Homo sapiens: one gene and its partner. The protein of the gene in region 1 interacts with the protein of each later gene in a pairwise test. Each region holds a gene or a part of one and is shown on either strand. Other genes may lie near its edges.

Region 1 (9,238 bases):
TACCCTAAAACTTAAAGTATAATAATAATAATAATAAAAGAAAGATTCTAGGACTCAACTCATTATTTTGAAAATTTATAAATACATTTCAAAATCTAGTGGTTTATCCTGTCTTTCTTACATATACCTGAAAGCAATGAAGTAGATAATGAAGAGAACTTTCTATATAGAAATATTCCAGGCCAGGCACAGTGGCTTATGTCTGTAATCCCAACACTTTGGGAGGCTGAAGCAGGAGGAGCTTAGGAGGCTGAGCCCAGTAGTTAGAGACCAGCCTGGGCAAAAAAGCAAGACCCTCATCTCTACAAAAAATTTAAAAATTAGCCAGGTGATGTGTGCCTGTAGTCCTAGCTATTGGGGAAGCTGAGGTGGGAGGATCACTTGAGCCTGGGAGTTGCAGGTTGCAGTGAGCTATGATCACACCACTGCACTCCAGCCTGGGTGACAGTGCAAGACTCTGTCTCAAATAATAAATAAATAAATAAATAATTTAAAAAGACATTCCAGCTAGTAAATGAAGGAATAGTAAAATTAGAATATCACCATTTTGCCATCCCCAAGAAAATAATAATCTATGAAATAATTATCCATGGCTGCTAGAATCACAGAAAGAGACAACCATATTATGTGTCTCTTGGTGAAAGTACGTAATCCCACTTATTAAATACTTTTGCCCAAATATCAAACCTGAATCACATACAGACTCTAGGCCTAAATAATAAGTTATGAGAAATACAAATGACAAAGAAAAATGTTAAGTGTCATTATAAAGAAGCATTCAGCAAAATCCAAGCTTTAGAAAACTACAGATAAAGCCAATTTCTGCAATAGATAAATTGAAAGAAAAAAAAAGAAGGCAAAAGGGGGAAACTGTAGATTAAGAGGAAACAAGACGCCAGGTGCAGTGGTTCACACTTGCAATCCAGCACTTTGGGGGGCCGAGGTGAAAGAATTGTGTGAGCCCAGGAGTTCGGGACCAGCCTGGGCCAGATGGCAAGACTTCATCTCTTCAAAAAAGTAAAAATATTAGCCAGTCATGGTGGCCAACACCTGTAGTCCCATCTACTCTGGAGGATGAGGCAGGAGCATCCCTTAAGCCCAGGAATTCGAGGCAGCAGTGACCCTTGCTCACAGTATTGCACTCCAGCCTGGTCGACAAGGTGAATGAAACCTGTCCCTTATAAGAAAAAAAAGAGAGAGAGAGAGATACAAGAGACTGTAGCAATTTCAACCAATTTCAATATCCTAGCCTTATTTTAATCCTTATTCAAATGAATAAATTATTAATAACAGTTTAAAAAGAAATGAAAAGTAAAATGTGTAAAAATTAAGATGCTGTTGTTATGGGTTAAATTCTGTCACCTCTAAATTTTTATATTAAAGTCCTAAGCCCAATACCTCACAATTTGACCGTATTTGGAAATAGAGCCCTTAAAGAAGTGACTAAGTTAAAATAAGGCCATTGGGGTGGGCCCTAATCCAATCTGACTGGTGTCCTCAAAAGAGGAGGAAATTTGGACACACACAAGAGATCCAGGGGCACGTGTGCACAGAGGGATGACTATGTGAAGAGGCAGCAGTAGGATGGCCATGTGCAAGTCAAGAAGAGAAGCCTCAGGAGAAGTTAAAACTCTGAGAAAATAAATATTTGTTGTTTAAGCTACTCAGTCTGTGGTATTCTGTTATGGCAGCCCTAGCAAACTAATACGGATACTAAAATGATGAACAAGTCCACCATTTAATTAATCTTGAAAAATACATGGGAATATAGAAGTGGATATACTGTGGATCACGGAGCAATAAACCCAACTCATAAAATGGAGAAAATCAAACCTCTTGGTGGGAAGGTGTGTTCATAAAAAATTTGAAAAAGCCCCAAAAGTGATTATGAATTTCCTTCTCTTCTCACTTATAAACACTATCTTAGTCCTAATCATATGCAAAAGTGTGCATAAATGAGGGCAAGGTTAGGTCGCTGTTTCTCTTGGCCAGTCAACCAGTTCTATTCATACTTTTTTTTTTTCCAGTCAATGAAAGGGACACTTTATTGAGGCTCCAGGGCCATGGGGCCTGGGCAGGAGGCTGCCCTCCGAGGAAGGAAGAGCCTTATTTGACCTTCTTGGGGTGCAGGTTGTTGGTGTGGCCACACTTCTTCTTGCGGCAATTGACAGCATAGGGGTGCAGGAGAGCATAGCGCTTATGGCAGATCATCTTGTTTCAGCTGTATTTCTAGGTGAGCTGGAAGAGTGAAGGCTCAATAATGCCACCTCGCAGGTGCAGCACCAGGTGCGGGGTGGGCTGTTTCTGGACGTTGTAGTCTGAGAGAGTGCGGCCATCCTCCAGCTGTTTGCTGGCAAATATCAGACGCTGCTTGTCAGGGGGGATACCCTCCTTGTCTTGAATTTTCGCACTGACATTCTCAATGGTGTCACTGGGCTCGACCTCAAGGGTGATGGTCTTGCCCGTGAGGGTCTTCACAAAGATCTGCATCTCTGTGTCTGCAGCTCGGCTGCCTCGCTGAAGAAAAAGAGGATGGCAGATCTGTTCATACTTCTATATCAAGGTCATATACAGACAATTTCACCAACTAGAATATAAAAATATTATTACTAGTGATCTGAGTTATGTGCAACATTGGAATGGATGCCACTCATTCCCTTCTACTGACCTCCAAAATTCTATGCCAATTTACCATTAACTTTCTCTTTCTTTCTTCTCAATTATAAATTCTCCACCTTATTAAAAGACATGGCTCTGACAATTCCAAGTTTCAGCTGCCCACTATGTTCCCATCCACTTCATCTTTTAAATGTGTTTAAAGCATTAACAACAGATTGTGTTTCACCCTAGAGACAGCTGGGTTTCAAGGAGAGGTAAAATGTTTCATAATCTCACTCTATTGTCCAAGACAAATGTGCTATTGTATTACATGTGAAATGTCATCTTTGAAGTCTGGTAAGGGTGTGCTGTGAGGTGAGCCATCTGGAAAACACAGTGTAGACTGAAAAATAATTATAAGCCAGTTTATTACTTTTTTCCAGTTAAGCCTACCATGACAGCTGCTAAAAAAAACACTATGTAGTATAAAGGGTAAAAAGACTCTGAAGTCGCAAAAGTTATACCCACCTCCAACAATGATTAGCTAGTATACAAGTCACTCAAATTCTCTGATCCTTTTGGCTTGTCTGTAAAATTGAAATATGGACACATGCCACAGAGGAGTTTTATGAGTATTAAATGAAACAACAGCTGTAAAGCACTTCGTACAGAGTACACAATAAGTTTGATTTCTCTTCTCGTCTTCTAAATATAGACTATATAATATTCTTTATACAGAGAATATTAGATAAAATCCAATCATATTTGAAAACCAGGTTGAGCAGGTTGGTTTTTCAAAGAAATTCATTGAGCTTCCATAATGTCCTTTCTATTTGACGGGAGAAAAGGGGCTTTGGAAGATCAAGTGTGAAGCTTTAGAATTCTGTCTGGAGCTGGTTAGGACCACCCAGGCCTGAGTATAAGCAAAGCGCTGTCCGTGGTGCTAGTAAGCGCGAATGCCCCCGGCAACGTTTTCCCTACCCAAAGTTGTTTTTCATTCAGTCAACTTGCTTCGCGAAGCTCACACATCTGCCTCGTGCAAGATTCTCAGTCATTTTACTTAGTCATTGGTTCTTTCCCTATCACCATTCTTTATGTCCCCCTCAAAGAAAAACATTATCTTCCATTTCCTTATCAACTCCAAACAGCTTTCATTTTTCTGACATATTTACTACCTAAGAAAATGGCTCAAGAATTGGGTCAGACTATCTTGTCCTAACTTTTCTGATAAGTTTCAGAGAAACTCAAAGGTCAAAACAAGAGCATAAGAGTAAAAGGTAGAGAAATTAAGAAACTGAAGACTAGGAAATGGGGGTTGGATGGGAAAGAAAAAGAAATTGTTATTAATGCTACCCGGTTCCCTTCCCTGTCCAGGTGGATTTCAGCTCTGTTGAGGCTCTGTCAGTAGATTTTCAGCCCTAACCAGCACTTCCATGGTGGTGGCACTTCCACTGCCTTTAAAAGAAAGAGCTTTTTTTAATTCTACAGGGATTTGGGGGATGAGGAGTCAGAGCTAAGGTATCCTAAAAAAAACATGTGAAGACTCTCATTTTGCAATACACAAGCAATTGCCCTCCTGTTAAGACTTTGTCTTCCTCAGCACTCCGAACCAAAATGATTCTGTAAACAAAAATTGTTCACTTTTAGGAGAGGTCCACTTATGCAGTTCCTCACCAAAGTTTTTAGGCAACAAATCCATAACTTGCGGTTCTCTTCCTATCCAATGTAGCATCCGCTGAAATGTTTTAAATATTTTAAGTAATAAATGTTGATTCAAACTCACCTAGGAAGATTAGGAAGGGGAAAAAAAGCACTTGGCATTTAAATCTTCAGAAGAGAATTTAATGACAGGTTCAGCCTGTTTAATGACAAGCCCAGCACCACACCCCTCTCTTATGATGTTTCATTATTACTGCATAAATTTCCTTTATTACTCATGATAAATAAAAATAAGATACCTGACAAAGTGGGTTTAAATAGGTAAGAGTGCAAACAAAGATTTACTGTACAAATATGATGAAACTGGGATCTCAGATTCTTAAAGTATAATTTTTTTTTGTCTTATGTGTGCCAGGTTGCCACTCTCAATCTCGAACTAGTTTTTTTCTCTTTTAAGGGTTGTATCCATAATGCAAAAATGGAAAGAATTAAAAAGCACACGCAAAACATGATTCTCGGGATTTTTCTCTATTTTTATGGTTGACTAATTCAAACAGAAAGACACATCCAAGAGAAAATTGCTAAGTTTGATACAAGTTATGAAACTTGTGAAGCCCAAGTACTGCCTGGGGATGAATTTAACTTGTATGACAGGTGCAGAGCTGTCGCTTTCAGACATCTTAAGAAACACGGAGTTATTTTGAATGACTTTCTCTCGGTCACAAGGGAGCCACCAACGTCTCCACAGTGAAACCAACTGGCTGGCTGAAGGAACAGAAATCCTCTGCTCCGCCTACTGGGGATTAGGAGCTGAGGGCAGTGGTGAACATTCCCAAAATATTAGCCTTGGCTTTACTGGACATCCAGCGAGCAGTGCAGCCAGCATTCCTGGCGGCTCCCTGGCCCAGTCTCTGGCGCATGCGTCCTAGCATCTTTGGGCAGGCTTCCCCGCCCTCGTGACGCGTCGGCCCGGGCCTGGCCTCCCGGCGATCACAGCGGACAGGGGGCGGAGCCTAAGGGGGTGGGGAGACGCCGGCCCCTTGGCCCAGCTGAAAACGGAATTCTTTGCCGGCTGGCTCCCCACTCTGCCAGAGCGAGGCGGGGCAGTGAGGACTCCGCGACGCGTCCGCACCCTGCGGCCAGAGCGGCTTTGAGCTCGGCTGCGTCCGCGCTAGGCGCTTTTTCCCAGAAGCAATCCAGGCGCGCCCGCTGGTTCTTGAGCGCCAGGAAAAGCCCGGAGCTAACGACCGGCCGCTCGGCCACTGCACGGGGCCCCAAGCCGCAGAAGGACGACGGGAGGGTAATGAAGCTGAGCCCAGGTCTCCTAGGAAGGAGAGAGTGCGCCGGAGCAGCGTGGGAAAGAAGGGAAGAGTGTCGTTAAGTTTACGGCCAACGGTGGATTATCCGGGCCGCTGCGCGTCTGGGGGCTGCGGAATGCGCGAGGAGAACAAGGGCATGCCCAGTGGGGGCGGCAGCGATGAGGGTCTGGCCAGCGCCGCGGCGCGGGGACTAGTGGAGAAGGTGCGACAGCTCCTGGAAGCCGGCGCGGATCCCAACGGAGTCAACCGTTTCGGGAGGCGCGCGATCCAGGTAGCTGGGGCCCCAGGGCCTCGCCGGCAGGGGGCGCGCGAACGCGGGGCGCGGCCTCGGCGGATCGGGGCTGGAACCTAGATCGCCGATGTAGATTTGTACAGGAGTCTCCGTTGGCCGGAGGTGTGCATTCCACGCGTAAAACAGGCTTTTACCCAGCAAAAATCCTAAAGAGAGACATTGAAAAACCCACTGTTTAAGCTTTTTTTAGTGGTTTTTGTTCTGCCATCTCATGATCAGAGATGCAAGGAATAGACTGAATTGGGGAGAAAAGGAGAAAAGGAAAGCTTATTTAGGGAAGAAGATTATCTTGTCTGTCTGCTTTCAACGATAAAGATAAGTAAAGTATAAGTTACGCATTCTAGATTGGATTTAAGGAATTCTACAAAATCATAGTACATGGAAAAAATCAATGTAAACTTCTAAGCTACTATATGAAATCTGTTGTATTGTTTTCTCATAGAGGTTAATTGAGAATGAGACGGGATTCCTCAACCACAGTACTTAGTTCCTTTTATGTTAGCAGTGTCTTATGAGTGATGCATAAGAGAAAAAATATATAGTTCTATAGGTTTCTCATTCTTTAATTATCATACTCAGTGCCCAGATTACAAAAATATTCCTGCAGCAACTGTTAGGTCCTTTTTGAATGGCAAAGGATCTTCATAAATAATGCATCTTTATCTTCATTGTTAAAATACACTTATTCAATGTTTAAGTACGAATCCTGCTTTAATTAGTACTGATATTTTTTATTTCTTTTACAATCTCGGACAACTCTTTTGTACTTTACCGTTGGCTAGTGGTCATATTCAGTACTCACCTCACTATCACCCTCTAAAACTAAGCTAATATTAAGGGATCTTGTTAATAGTATAGATTTTAAAGAAGTGTTCATTTCTTTTGAATTCTTAGAATAATGGTATAACAAATGAGGGATTTTTAAAGGAGCAAAAATATTGTAAAGTGCATCTTAAAAACTTAAAATTTTATTAATAATTATAAAAACAAGTTATATATGTAATTCACCATTTTCTGAAATACTAACAGCAGCTATTTTCCCCTTTTTTTCTATGTAAAATATCCTTACATCACTAGTAGATATAACTTATCACGGTTTTTAAGAGATGAAATGAACATTTCTAATATTAATGAAACAAGCCAACAAAACATGAGAAGTATACTGCCTTTCAATTAAATGGTATATTTTAAAGTGCATAAACCCATAACAAATAACTCGATTTTAGACATTTAGTTACCAAAAATTGTCTTATAATTGACTTTAAATATGACAGCAAATGTTTTCATAATGTTCATGTACACAAATGGCTGCTACAGGATTACTCCTGCAAAACATCATTTTTTCTAAGTTATGCATCATCCTGATTGACTGCTAACATCCAAGCTCTATTTATTTATTTATTTATTTTATTTTTTTTGAGATGAGGCCTCACTCTGTCGGACAGGCTGGAGTGCAGTGGCACAATCTCAGCTCACTGCAACCTCTTCCAGGATGCAAGCGATTCTCCTGCCTCAGCCTCCTGAGTTGCTGGGACTACAGGCACGCCCCACCATGCCCAGCTAATTTTTTATTTTTTGTAGTAGAGACGGGATTTCACCATGTTGGCCAGGCTGGTCTCGAACTCCTGACCTCAGGTGATCTGCCTGCTATGGCCTCCCAAAGTGCTGGGATTACAGGCATAAGCCACTGGGCCTGGCCCAAGCTCTTTTTATATAGCAAAATATTTACTGTTTAACATTTTTAAATCTTAGCTATTATAAAATCCTGTAGTATACAAATATAGTTAGTTTTATATTACATTAAAAATATTATAGTCTAAATTTAAAATGATGAACTGTTAAGGAAAAATCATTTATTATAATTTTATAAGATTTTGCATGATTTAATTTACTTTTCCCTTCTAATCTCCAACTTTGGCTCAAATTATCACACTACAAGCCAGTTATGAGCTCAGACACATGACAAACAAAAGCCTTCCGCACGGGATTTGCTATGAGAACTAAATAAATTAAAAAAAAAAGAAAGAAAAAAACTTAGTTGTTTATTTTCTCCCCTAAACCATTACTCCCAACTTCTAACAAACAGTAGTTGACTACCTAATAAATATTTGTAGACCTGGATTATGGAGGAGGGGTCAGCAAGGCAAATAATTTAAAACTTTAAAAGCCGAATAAATTTAACTCTGCCCCTAAATCATTTAACAAAATAGATTCCCATGTTCCAATGGAAATCAAGATTTGTTTTTCCATAATGATGATCATCACTTTACCATCAACTTTCTTGTCTCTGCACGTTTAGAGAATAAAATGGCATTTAATTTGTACTGAGTATAACCTGAAGGTGGGGTGGGAAAGTGGATTGCATCAGCAAATGAAGAAACACCAGACATCAGAGACCTGAACACCTCTGCACTGGGTGAAAACTTTGCAATTAGGTGTTTCTTTAAATGGCTCCACCTGCCTTGCCCCGGCCGGCATCTCCCATACCTGCCCCCACCCTGGCTCTGACCACTCTGCTCTCTCTGGCAGGTCATGATGATGGGCAGCGCCCGCGTGGCGGAGCTGCTGCTGCTCCACGGCGCGGAGCCCAACTGCGCAGACCCTGCCACTCTCACCCGACCGGTGCATGATGCTGCCCGGGAGGGCTTCCTGGACACGCTGGTGGTGCTGCACCGGGCCGGGGCGCGGCTGGACGTGCGCGATGCCTGGGGTCGTCTGCCCGTGGACTTGGCCGAGGAGCGGGGCCACCGCGACGTTGCAGGGTACCTGCGCACAGCCACGGGGGACTGACGCCAGGTTCCCCAGCCGCCCACAACGACTTTATTTTCTTACCCAATTTCCCACCCCCACCCACCTAATTCGATGAAGGCTGCCAACGGGGAGCGGCGGAAAGCCTGTAAGCCTGCAAGCCTGTCTGAGACTCACAGGAAGGAGGAGCCGACCGGGAATAACCTTCCATACATTTTTTTCTTTGTCTTATCTGGCCCTCGACACTCACCATGAAGCGAAACACAGAGAAGCGGATTTCCAGGGATATTTAGGAGTGTGTGACATTCCAGGGGTCGTTTGCTTTTCAGGGTTTTCTGAGGGAAAGTGCATATGAAATCCTTGACTGGACCTGGTGGCTACGAATCTTCCGATGGATGAATCTCCCACTCCAGCGCTGAGTGGGAGAAGGCAGTGATTAGCACTTGGGTGACGGCAGTCGATGCGTTCACTCCAATGTCTGCTGAGGAGTTATGGTGAACCCACAACTTAGGCCCTAGCGGCAGAAAGGAAAACCTGAAGACTGAGGACAAAGTGGAGGAGGGCCGAGGTGGGCTTCAGTAAGTCCCCGGCGGCGCTTTAGTTTGAGCGCATGGCAAGTCAC
Region 2 (9,035 bases), on another chromosome or scaffold:
CCACCCCAGCACTGCCGCAGACCTGGCCCAGCAGCTCCTGCTCCTTAGCAGGGGATGAGCACGCCCACCACAGCCACCCTCTTCTCCAGGCTGCAGGGCAGGCTCCAGCTCCCCATGGGGGCCCCATCAGGCCAGGGCCCCTGGCTTTACTGCAGGGGAGAGGGTCTCTTGTGCAGACCCCATATGGCTCGTGCCCCCTAGAGCTGAGATGAGGCAGCCGGCCTGGCTGTAGCTGCACGGAGCCACCTGGAAAGCCAAAGGCAAGCTCCAGCTCCAGACCAGGCATTGGGCCAGCCGTGCCTGTTACCGTAAGTTCTGTTCATGGCCTCAACCAACTGCCCAACCATGCGGGCAAATGACCAAGACGCCATCTCTTGGGCCCCTCAGAACCAATGTTGCAGCAAGGTGGGCTCACTGCAGCAAGGGGCAGAGCCACCACCACGGTGCCTTCTGCTCACTGGGGAGGGAGGAGTGTCCCCACTGGTCGGGGCTCCCCCGCCTGCTGGAACCTCCCAAGTCCTGCCCCCTGCATTTCCCTGTGCAAGGGGAGAAGGAGCAGTAGGAGACCCTCATGCAGGAGGGAGGGAGCCGCAGTCCTCAGGGGAAGGGACACAGGGAGAGGCAGGGGCACAGAGGCAGGAAAGGATGGCCAGAGCCCAGCCTACTTTCTGCTGAGCTCCTTGGCCCGGCAGGTGGCAGCCTCCACGGCGCTCATGGTGGCTGCTCGCAGCCCGCCCTGCTCCAGGGCGTGGAGTCCATAGATGGTGGTGCCACCCGGGGTGCACACGTCTGAGCGCAGCTGGGCTGGGTGTTGGCCCTCGTGCAGCAGCATCTTGGCCGTCCCCTGAGGAGAGCGTTAGGGCCTGGTGACGGGGGGAGGTGGTGCGGTCCCCACTGTGCGGCCTGCCCTCGTTGCATCCCCCAACCTTGGCCCCAGCTTCTCGAGCCTGCTGTTTCCCTGCGCACTGGAAGAGGTACAGGCCTGGGCCTTCCCGATGTTCCCCAGGGGCCACCCTCACTCACCAGCAGGGTCTGGGCAGCGATGCGGTGGGCCAGGCTGCTGGGCATGCCCATCTTGACGGCTCCTTCAGCCAGGGCCTCGGAGAATGCACACACCTGTAGCCGCGGCATGGTGGTTGGGGGGGATAGGTGTCAAAGCCTGGGGGCTCAGGACCTTCAGGAACAATGCCCAGAGCAGTAGCCGTGGGTGGCCAGAACCAAGGCCTGAGCCCAACGGTCTGCAAAGGGGCTGGCCTCAAAGATCCCCAAGGCAGTGAAGTCCCGGGGACAAGCAGAGCTCCCAGTGGGCCTGGGGAGCAACCACGCAGGCCTCAAGGTTGGACTCTGAGGGCAGAGGCTGTCAGAGGGACTGGGGTGGGCCCCCTCTTTGCCGAGGGTGGGGCCGGGGATGGACGAGGCAATACTCACGAAGGCCACGCCACTGCCACTGAGGCCAGTGTGGATGTCGACGTAGGCTTCAGGCACCTCCTCACACCGCCCACAGGCCTCCAGCAGATGCTGCAGGAGCTTGGTCTCGCTGCTCCCCACGTGGCGGCCCCGCGCCATCACTATGGCCCCTTCCTGGACCACACAGGGCAGGTTGGGCAAGACCCGCAGCACCCGTGTGTTTGGGGGCAGCAGCTGGCCAGAGAGAGGTCAGAATCAGGGAGTCTGTAGGACTGGGCCCTGCTGGGCAGGCCCCAGCAGGGGCCTCAGGAAAGGTCCACGTCAGCTCGCGGTGGGCTCCAGCGTCTGCCTCCCAGGTACAGCACCAGGAGGGAACCCTAAATCCAGCCACTTGATCCAGGTGGGCCACACGGCCACCTCTCAGGCTCTCTGGGGGGCTGCCTGCCGCCCAAGCCTGGCCAGCAGAGCCTATACTGGGACCAAGGCCTTAGCCCAAGGGACACTCACCTCCTCCAGGGTGCTCAGAGACACCCCAGCAGCCACGGACACCAAGATGTGTTCAGTGGTGACCACAGGAGCCACCTCTGCCAGGACAGCTGGCAGCACATGAGGCTTGGTGGCAAAGATGACGAGCAGGCAGCTCTGCAGCACCTCCTGGTTGGAGTGCGTGGTCCGGCAACCCAGAGCCTGCGCCAGGGACACCAGGACCAAGCCTCAGGGGCCATGTAAGCGGCGCACCCTCTCCATCACAGCCCTTCCTGCTGGATGCCACACGTTCCCATGGTCCCAGGGCCTCTCCCATTGCAAGTGTCTAGACCACCCCGACTTCTCCAGTGCCCAAGACTCCCCCAGACTAGCCCTACTCCTCACAGGCCATCCTGATGTCAGCGCCTCCCCAAGCCCTGAGCCCTCCATCCCCAGTGAATGTCTGTGACCACCACCCAGCATGCAAACACACCCATGCACATGCACGCACTCACGAGCATGCATTCATATACACACACGCAGACACATGCACTCACGAGCATACATACACATGTACACATGAATGCACTCATGAGCACAAACACATGCACACACACCCACTCGAGCATGCACTCATGTGTACACGCACGCACTCATACACGCACACACGCACTCATATACACATCTGCACAGGCACACATGCACAAGCACATACGTGCACTCACGACCACACAGGTGCACATGCACTCATGAGCATGCACTCATACACACACGCACACACATGCACTGACATACATGCACTCACCACACGTGCACACGCACACACAAGCGCACGTGCAAACGCACATGAGCACATACATACACACATGCACACGCATAGCCTCACATATACACACGTGCATATACACACACTCACGGACATGCACTCACACATGCATACACACACACACACAAACACTTTGCTTTGGCCCTCCACAACCTTACTTTCCTCCTGGCCTCTAATCTCCCTTTTCCCAGCCCAGACCAGCCAGTCTGCAAACTTCAGCTAAATAAACCACCCATCCCTGGCTCTGATAAGTGTCTTAGTGGGACAGGAGCCAAGAGCTATCCTGGGCTCCTGAGGGTATGAAGAACCTGGGCTCTATGCTCACTTGAAAGTGACATAGGTTCCTGTCTGTTGGTGCACTGGCCAGTATGTGCTGAGCTTCCACTTTTCCTGGAAAGAAAGGAAAAGGAAGAGGGGTTGGTGAAGGGGTGGGATAGGATGGCACGGAGAGGAGAGGGAGCTCACTTGGCCTCTCAGGCTCAGCCACGCCTGGCCCATCCTGGGCCCCCTCCTGGCCCCAGGAACCCAAAGCGGGATGCACCATTCACTGGGCCCAGGCAATCAGATCCACTGATTCTACTTGGCGGTCAACGCCCCTGACTGCTGCTGGGTATGGAGGCCAGGAGCTTACCTCATTGGTGAGGACACAGATCCCTGGGGCCTCTGCCTCCAGGGAAGGGAAGGCTGCCTGGAGCAGAAGAGGCAGTACCTCTGGAGGAACACCAGGCCTTGGGGGAATGTGGTGGGTACAAAGGCAGTTGATTGGCCACAGAAGGCCCAATCGGGGCCCAGGTTCTTCGAGAGGGAGAGTCTATGCTGGAATGTCTAAGAAAAGGCTAAATGCCTACTTGGTAGAAATTATCTGCTTTTGTCGGGTACGGGGTGGAAAGATTGGGTTAGATTTTGGTAAGGTCGAACAGGAAGGCACAAGTGTACACCACAACCTGAACACAGCAATTAATCATGACAGTGGCAGCCAAACACACCAGTACTAAGCTCAACACTAGACATTTATGTCTCATTTAACCTGTACAGCTCTGGGAGGCATGCGGTACTGCCAGGTTTCACAGGGAAGACTCCTGAGACTCATAGTAAGCTATTTCCCGATTGATCTTGACTCTTCTGGACCCTGAAGTATGGCTGAAGGCAGAGAGTCAAAAGTCACCCAGCTCTCCCTATCCACAATCTGCAGAGAGGCTTCTAAATGCCTGGAGGAGTATATGGTCAGCATAAATATTCCGGGTATAAAGCAGTGTTTCTCAACAGGGGATGATTTTGCCTGTCTCCTCCCCCCACCCAGGGGACATTCGGCAGTGTCTGGAGGCATTTTTGGCTGTCACAACGTGGGGGTGCTGCTGGCACAGGATGGATAGTCTGGCCCAGGTGTCCCTAGAGCCAAGGTGTCTGGGGGAGAAGCCCTGCTGCTCCCCATGAGAGGGGCTGGCGCGCAAAGAGAAAATCAGAGGCTGGAAGAGGTGAGCCTGGCCAAGGCCACGCGGCCAGGAAGCCGGCCACGGAAGCGGCACCTAGCCACGTGTGACTCAAATCTTCCCGCAGCCACGTCAAAAAAGTAAGAGCAAACAGGCGTGGCCCCGGCTGCGCCCAGCGGAGCGGAGACCCGGTTGGCTGGGCCCGCGCCCCCGGCCCCACTCTCGCGGCAGGACACCTCCCACGGGGCTGCTCCCACTCCAGACCGCAGGCCTAGCCCCGCGCCGCCCCACCTGCTCTGATGAGGCCCTGCGCGATGGCCCCCGCCATGCGGCCCGCGCCCACGAAGCCCACGCGCCGCGGAGACGGCTCCGCAGCTGCCATCTTGTTGCCTCGGACGCCGCTGCGCTCACCGCCCATCCACAGGCCGCGCCCCGCCCACAGATCTAGGCCCCACCCCCGCCCTCCAATAGGACTCGCCTCCCCGTCCCCACCCTCGCCGATTGGTTACTGGGACGGCACACTCCGGCCGGCTTTTTGTCCGCACTCTACAAGTTCGCAAGGCGCGGGAACCCCGCCTCTCGCTGCTTATTGGCCCGAAAGGGCTATGCCGCCCCTCACTGCCCATTGGCTGAGAGAAACTGGGGGCGGGGCCGTAAGGGGCGGGGCCGGCGGGGTACTCGCGCTCGGAGAGGCCGGAGGAGCGGGGAGGGGTCCCGGTCGCGCGTGCGAGGAGCACATGTTGGTTTTCCGGAGGGGAGGGGTAGCGAAGCGGGTTGCGGGGCTGGTCCAGAGCGTGCGGTCACTGAGGCCCCGCCGACCACAGACGGTGGAGCTGCGGGGAAGCACTAGGGGCGGAGACCCAGGTCACGGAGAGCAGGCCAGGGCCAGGGGCCTGAGACCGACGGAGGGGACAGTCGGGGAGGGGGTACTCGTCACTTTTAATGACACAAGGAAAACAAGGCTTGAAGATCTGAGTGCGGTTTTTTCATCATCCAATCTAAAGCTGCATGTTACATATGTTATTTTCTTTTGAAGCCTTTGACATTTTCTTTTTTCTTTTTTTTGAGACGGAGTCTCGCTCTGTCGCCCAGGCTGGAGTGCAGTGGCGCCATCTGGGCTCGCTGCAAGCTCCGTCTCCCGGGTTCACGCCATTCTCCTGCCTCAGCCTCCCAAGTAGCTGGGACTATAGGCGACCGCCACCACGCCCGGCTTATTTTTTTGTATTTTTAGTAGAGATGGGGTTTCACCTTGTTAGCCAGGATGGTCTCAATCTCCTGACCTCGTGATCCACCTGCCTCGGCCTCCCAAAGTGCTGGGATTACAGGCGTGAGCCACCGTGCCGGCCCAAGCCTTTGACATTTTCTAAGCTCTTCAGTAATGAAATCCTCTCATTGATTCAACATTCACTGTGCAGCTGCAGCCTCTGGGCCCTGCTCTGGGCCTGGGCAAGATCACCCCACGGCAGCAGATGGGACAGGCTGGACCCCACCCTGCAGCCCTGCTTGGTGGCAGTGTAGACAGACTACAGTCAGCACACACGCAGGACAGCCAGTGTGTCAAGGCTCTGAAGCAAATGAGGTGGAAAGGGACAGAAAGCCACCAGGAGGCTGCTTCGGCCACTGCAGCCGAGAAACGTGGGTGGTGGACACTTTGCACCAGCACACAGCGTCAGCAGCTGTATCTCCTGCCACCTCGGATCCTCCCAGCCCCTTCCCACAGACTCCCTGGATTTTCTCCCAGGCCCCCTGGGCCAGTGATGGCTCAGGACCAAGGCTGTGGGGAGGTGAGAGGGGCCAGAGGCATCCAGTGCCATGCCATCATACATAAGGACAAAGCTCATCATAAACAAGTGGACTGAGGCGAGGTGAAGGAGGATTGCTGGCTGAGTGCCCAGGGCCACAGTGGGTAAAAGGAGGCCCAGGGGCCCAGCCCCGTTCAGCTTCTCCGTCCCATGCCGGGCTGGGCTTCTGAGCATCAGCTGGGAGCCCTCAGCTGACGTGGACACCCAGCCAGCCAAGGCTTGTGTCCAGGGCACCTCTCTGCTCTTGGCTGGGCTTCTTCCCACTGTTCACCTGGTGGATCCAAGCAGCCACATAGGCGCCACCCTCTCCAGGAGGCCTTTCCTGAACCCCCACATGGGCAGAGCCTTTATCCACAAAGGGCTGGGGCCAGGGGATACACTGTGAACGAGGCCAACCCGTCTCCTGGAGCTCGAGGTCCTGGGGTGTCAGCGGGAGGGTTAGGGGTTGAGGCGGGGCTCCCAGAGGTTTCCAGACAAACAATCCCAGCAGGGCAGGGTGGATGCTCCGAGAGGCGCTGTGAAGGTGCCATCAGGGAAGGTGTTTTGGAGGCTGGGCCACCTCAGCTGAGGCCTAAAAGGTAGGGAGGCCTTGACCCAAGAGGGGGCCAGTCTCAGGGGAGGCCTGGAGGACACCTCGGCTTGCTGGACACAAAGGGACAGTGAGAGATGAGGTGAGCGGTTGGCTGGGTGCAGGACACACCGGTCTGGACTCAGTGCCGGGACAGGGAGGACACATCACCGCTGCCGGAATGAACGAAGAAGTGAAGCAGCAGGTCCTACCTGCAGCCAAAAGGCATCATGTGCGTGAAGACGGCACAGGGCGCCCAGGAGAGGGACCCTGAGGACGTGGGCCCAGAGTTGGGCCAGGAGCCAGGGAGGGCATCTGGGTCCTGGATGCAGTGGACCAGAGGGTTCTGGCATAGGGGCTCCCTCTGTGAGAGGCACTGAGAAAGGGGGCGACGGGCAAGCCGGGGCCTGGAGCCCAGTGCTCCTGGTCCATACCCCAGCGCCACCCTGCCTGGCTGAGGCACTGGCCCGGGAACCATTCTGGACTTTGCTGTCTCCCCTCTGAGAATGGACGGGGGCGGCGAGCAATGACACCCCACCTCTGGTGGCTGGAGCTGACCTGTCCAGCAGGCACCTGTCCCTCTCCATGGGATAAGGCCAGGTGGGGGACCCACGCCCAAGCCTGAGAGCCACAGAGAGGAGGGGCCAGGCCAGGGGAAGCCCGAGCCACCCAATCATCAGCCTCCCCTCATATCCATCCATGGGCTCAGCTCGGCTGGCTCACTAGACGTTTCTGGCCCACTAGACCAGCTTCCCCAGAGCCCTCAGGCTGAGGCAGGGAGGTCCGGGTGAGCTCAAGTTACTCAGGCCTGCAGGTGGCCACATGTGGAGGGGCTGGGACTGGCCCTGCCCTGCACATCCTTGTCCAGCTGACAGTCCACACCAGTCTCACTGCTGCCTGCCTGCTGCCTGCCCACGTGTGCCTTCCCATCTCCAGCCTCTGCGGCCTTTCCACCCCAGGGAGTCACCAGCTCTTGGGGGCTGAACAGTAAGCCAGGGGGATAGTGGGTCCTGGGACTGGCCAGGCTAGGGGGCAGTCCCTGGGTGTGGGGGACGGCTCAGCACAGAGCTGCCAAGGCCAGGCCTGTGAAAATGCACTTTATTGGCTCCCAGGGAGTGGGATGCAGGATCAGAGTGGACACGCGCAGGGGGCTGGTGTGGGGAGCAAAGCGCCGGGCCTGCCCGGGACCCTGGTTTCCCTGAGGACCAACGTGAATGGGGGCCCCACTGGAAAGATGCTTGGGGCTGCAGAGCGGATGGAATGCAGGCCCAGGTTGCTGGGTGGTGCCCTCAGCTCCTGGCAGGGTTGACGGGTGGTGGCCGCTGGGCTCTGCCAGCCGATGGTCCGCTGGCACCTGATCCTGTCTTCCAGCTTCACTTCCGGGCCTGCTCGTAGTTGTCAGTGAACCAAGCACAGGTCTCCTTCACCGCTGCAGAGGCAGGCAGGTGAGGGCCATGGACAGGGAGGGTCGGGGCCGCATGGGAGGAAGTGGGGGGAGGAGGCCCAGGGACAGGGAAGTCACCCCTCAGAGCTTTGGTGTCCCACCTCCAGGGCAGTACAGGCTCTGAGGGGGCACCTCACCTCTGCCCTGGTAGCGAGCATGAGGGAGGGGCTGGGGCAGGCCTCCACCAAGTGGAGGGCTGTGGGGTCAGGGCTCACCCTGCTTGAAGGGTGTGAACCGGAAGTCGGGCAGGTAGGTCCTCAGCTTGCTGTTACTGGCTGTCTTCTTAAACTGCCCATCCGACTTGGTTGTATCAAACTGGAGGCTTTGTCAAGGCCACAGCGAGAAGAGCACCTCCACCCCAGCCCCCGCAGCTTGCCCTTGAACCTCTGCCATTCCCAGGGGAGCCACAGCAGAGCTCCTCCGCCTGCCAGGGTGAGCATCCTCCCTCCGCAGTGTCCCACCCACGCTGGCCCTACACCGGGTGGCCACTGAGCCCGCCCAAGGGGCCCCCGCCCAACCCCCAGCACTGGAGCCAGAGGATACGGTGACTTCCCCATGGAAGTCCATGGCCTCCACCACCGCCTCGGCTGCCTCCTTGATGGAGACCTCATCTTCCTCGCCCACTGTGGGGAGCCACCGGGTCAGGCCTCCCCTTGGTGCCACCCGACGGCCCATGAATATTCCTGCTCCCACCCCTCAGCCAGCCTCCCAGGACAACCTTGGATCCTGTCCTACCATGGAGGAAGGGGGCTGAGGGCTGAGGTACCCACCGGAGAGGATGATGGGCTCCACTTCATTGTACTCCCGCAGGACCCAGATAAAGAGCTGGGCCAGGTCCTAGAGGTCAGACAGGCAGGGTCAGAGACCATGGGTATAGCCAACCCTCTCCCAAACGCCCCTGCTGGGGAGTCCATACTGCTGTCCTTGTTCAGTGGGGGCTCAGCCTGGGGAACAGGGGTCCCTCCTTTCTCCCTTGGAGCTCAGAGCTACGCCAGTGACTCCTGGAGACAGGAGCCTATGGGGCCTCCACGAGGACCAGAGATGGCTCCTCTTGGAGCTCAGCCCAGATTCTCTGCTGGTAGGAGCCTCCCTC

What was found.
Region 2: the proteins of CDKN2B (region 1) and PYCR3 interact in binary tests that used the Homo sapiens proteins (3 or more experiments, as listed by UniProt).

The regions. Positions count from the first base shown.
Region 1 is NC_000009.12:22,005,407-22,014,644, reverse strand, and holds the start of CDKN2B (cyclin-dependent kinase 4 inhibitor B), read left to right. Parts: upstream 1-5,339; 5' UTR 5,340-5,691; coding exon 5,692-5,847; coding exon of another isoform or gene 5,848-5,928; exon of another isoform or gene 5,929-5,970; intron 5,971-8,397; coding exon 8,398-8,658; 3' UTR 8,659-9,238. UniProt on the Homo sapiens protein: Interacts strongly with CDK4 and CDK6. Potent inhibitor. Potential effector of TGF-beta induced cell cycle arrest.
Region 2 is NC_000008.11:143,605,039-143,614,073, forward strand, and holds the start of PYCR3 (pyrroline-5-carboxylate reductase 3), read right to left. Parts: upstream 4,538-9,035; 5' UTR 4,511-4,537; coding exon 4,420-4,510; intron 3,839-4,419; exon of another isoform or gene 3,726-3,838; intron 3,089-3,725; coding exon 3,024-3,088; intron 2,095-3,023; coding exon 1,915-2,094; intron 1,642-1,914; coding exon 1,429-1,641; intron 1,117-1,428; coding exon 1,024-1,116; intron 845-1,023; coding exon 662-844; 3' UTR 1-661. Other genes in the region: GFUS (GDP-L-fucose synthase), read right to left, coding at 7,872-7,927, 8,158-8,257, 8,486-8,565, 8,713-8,779.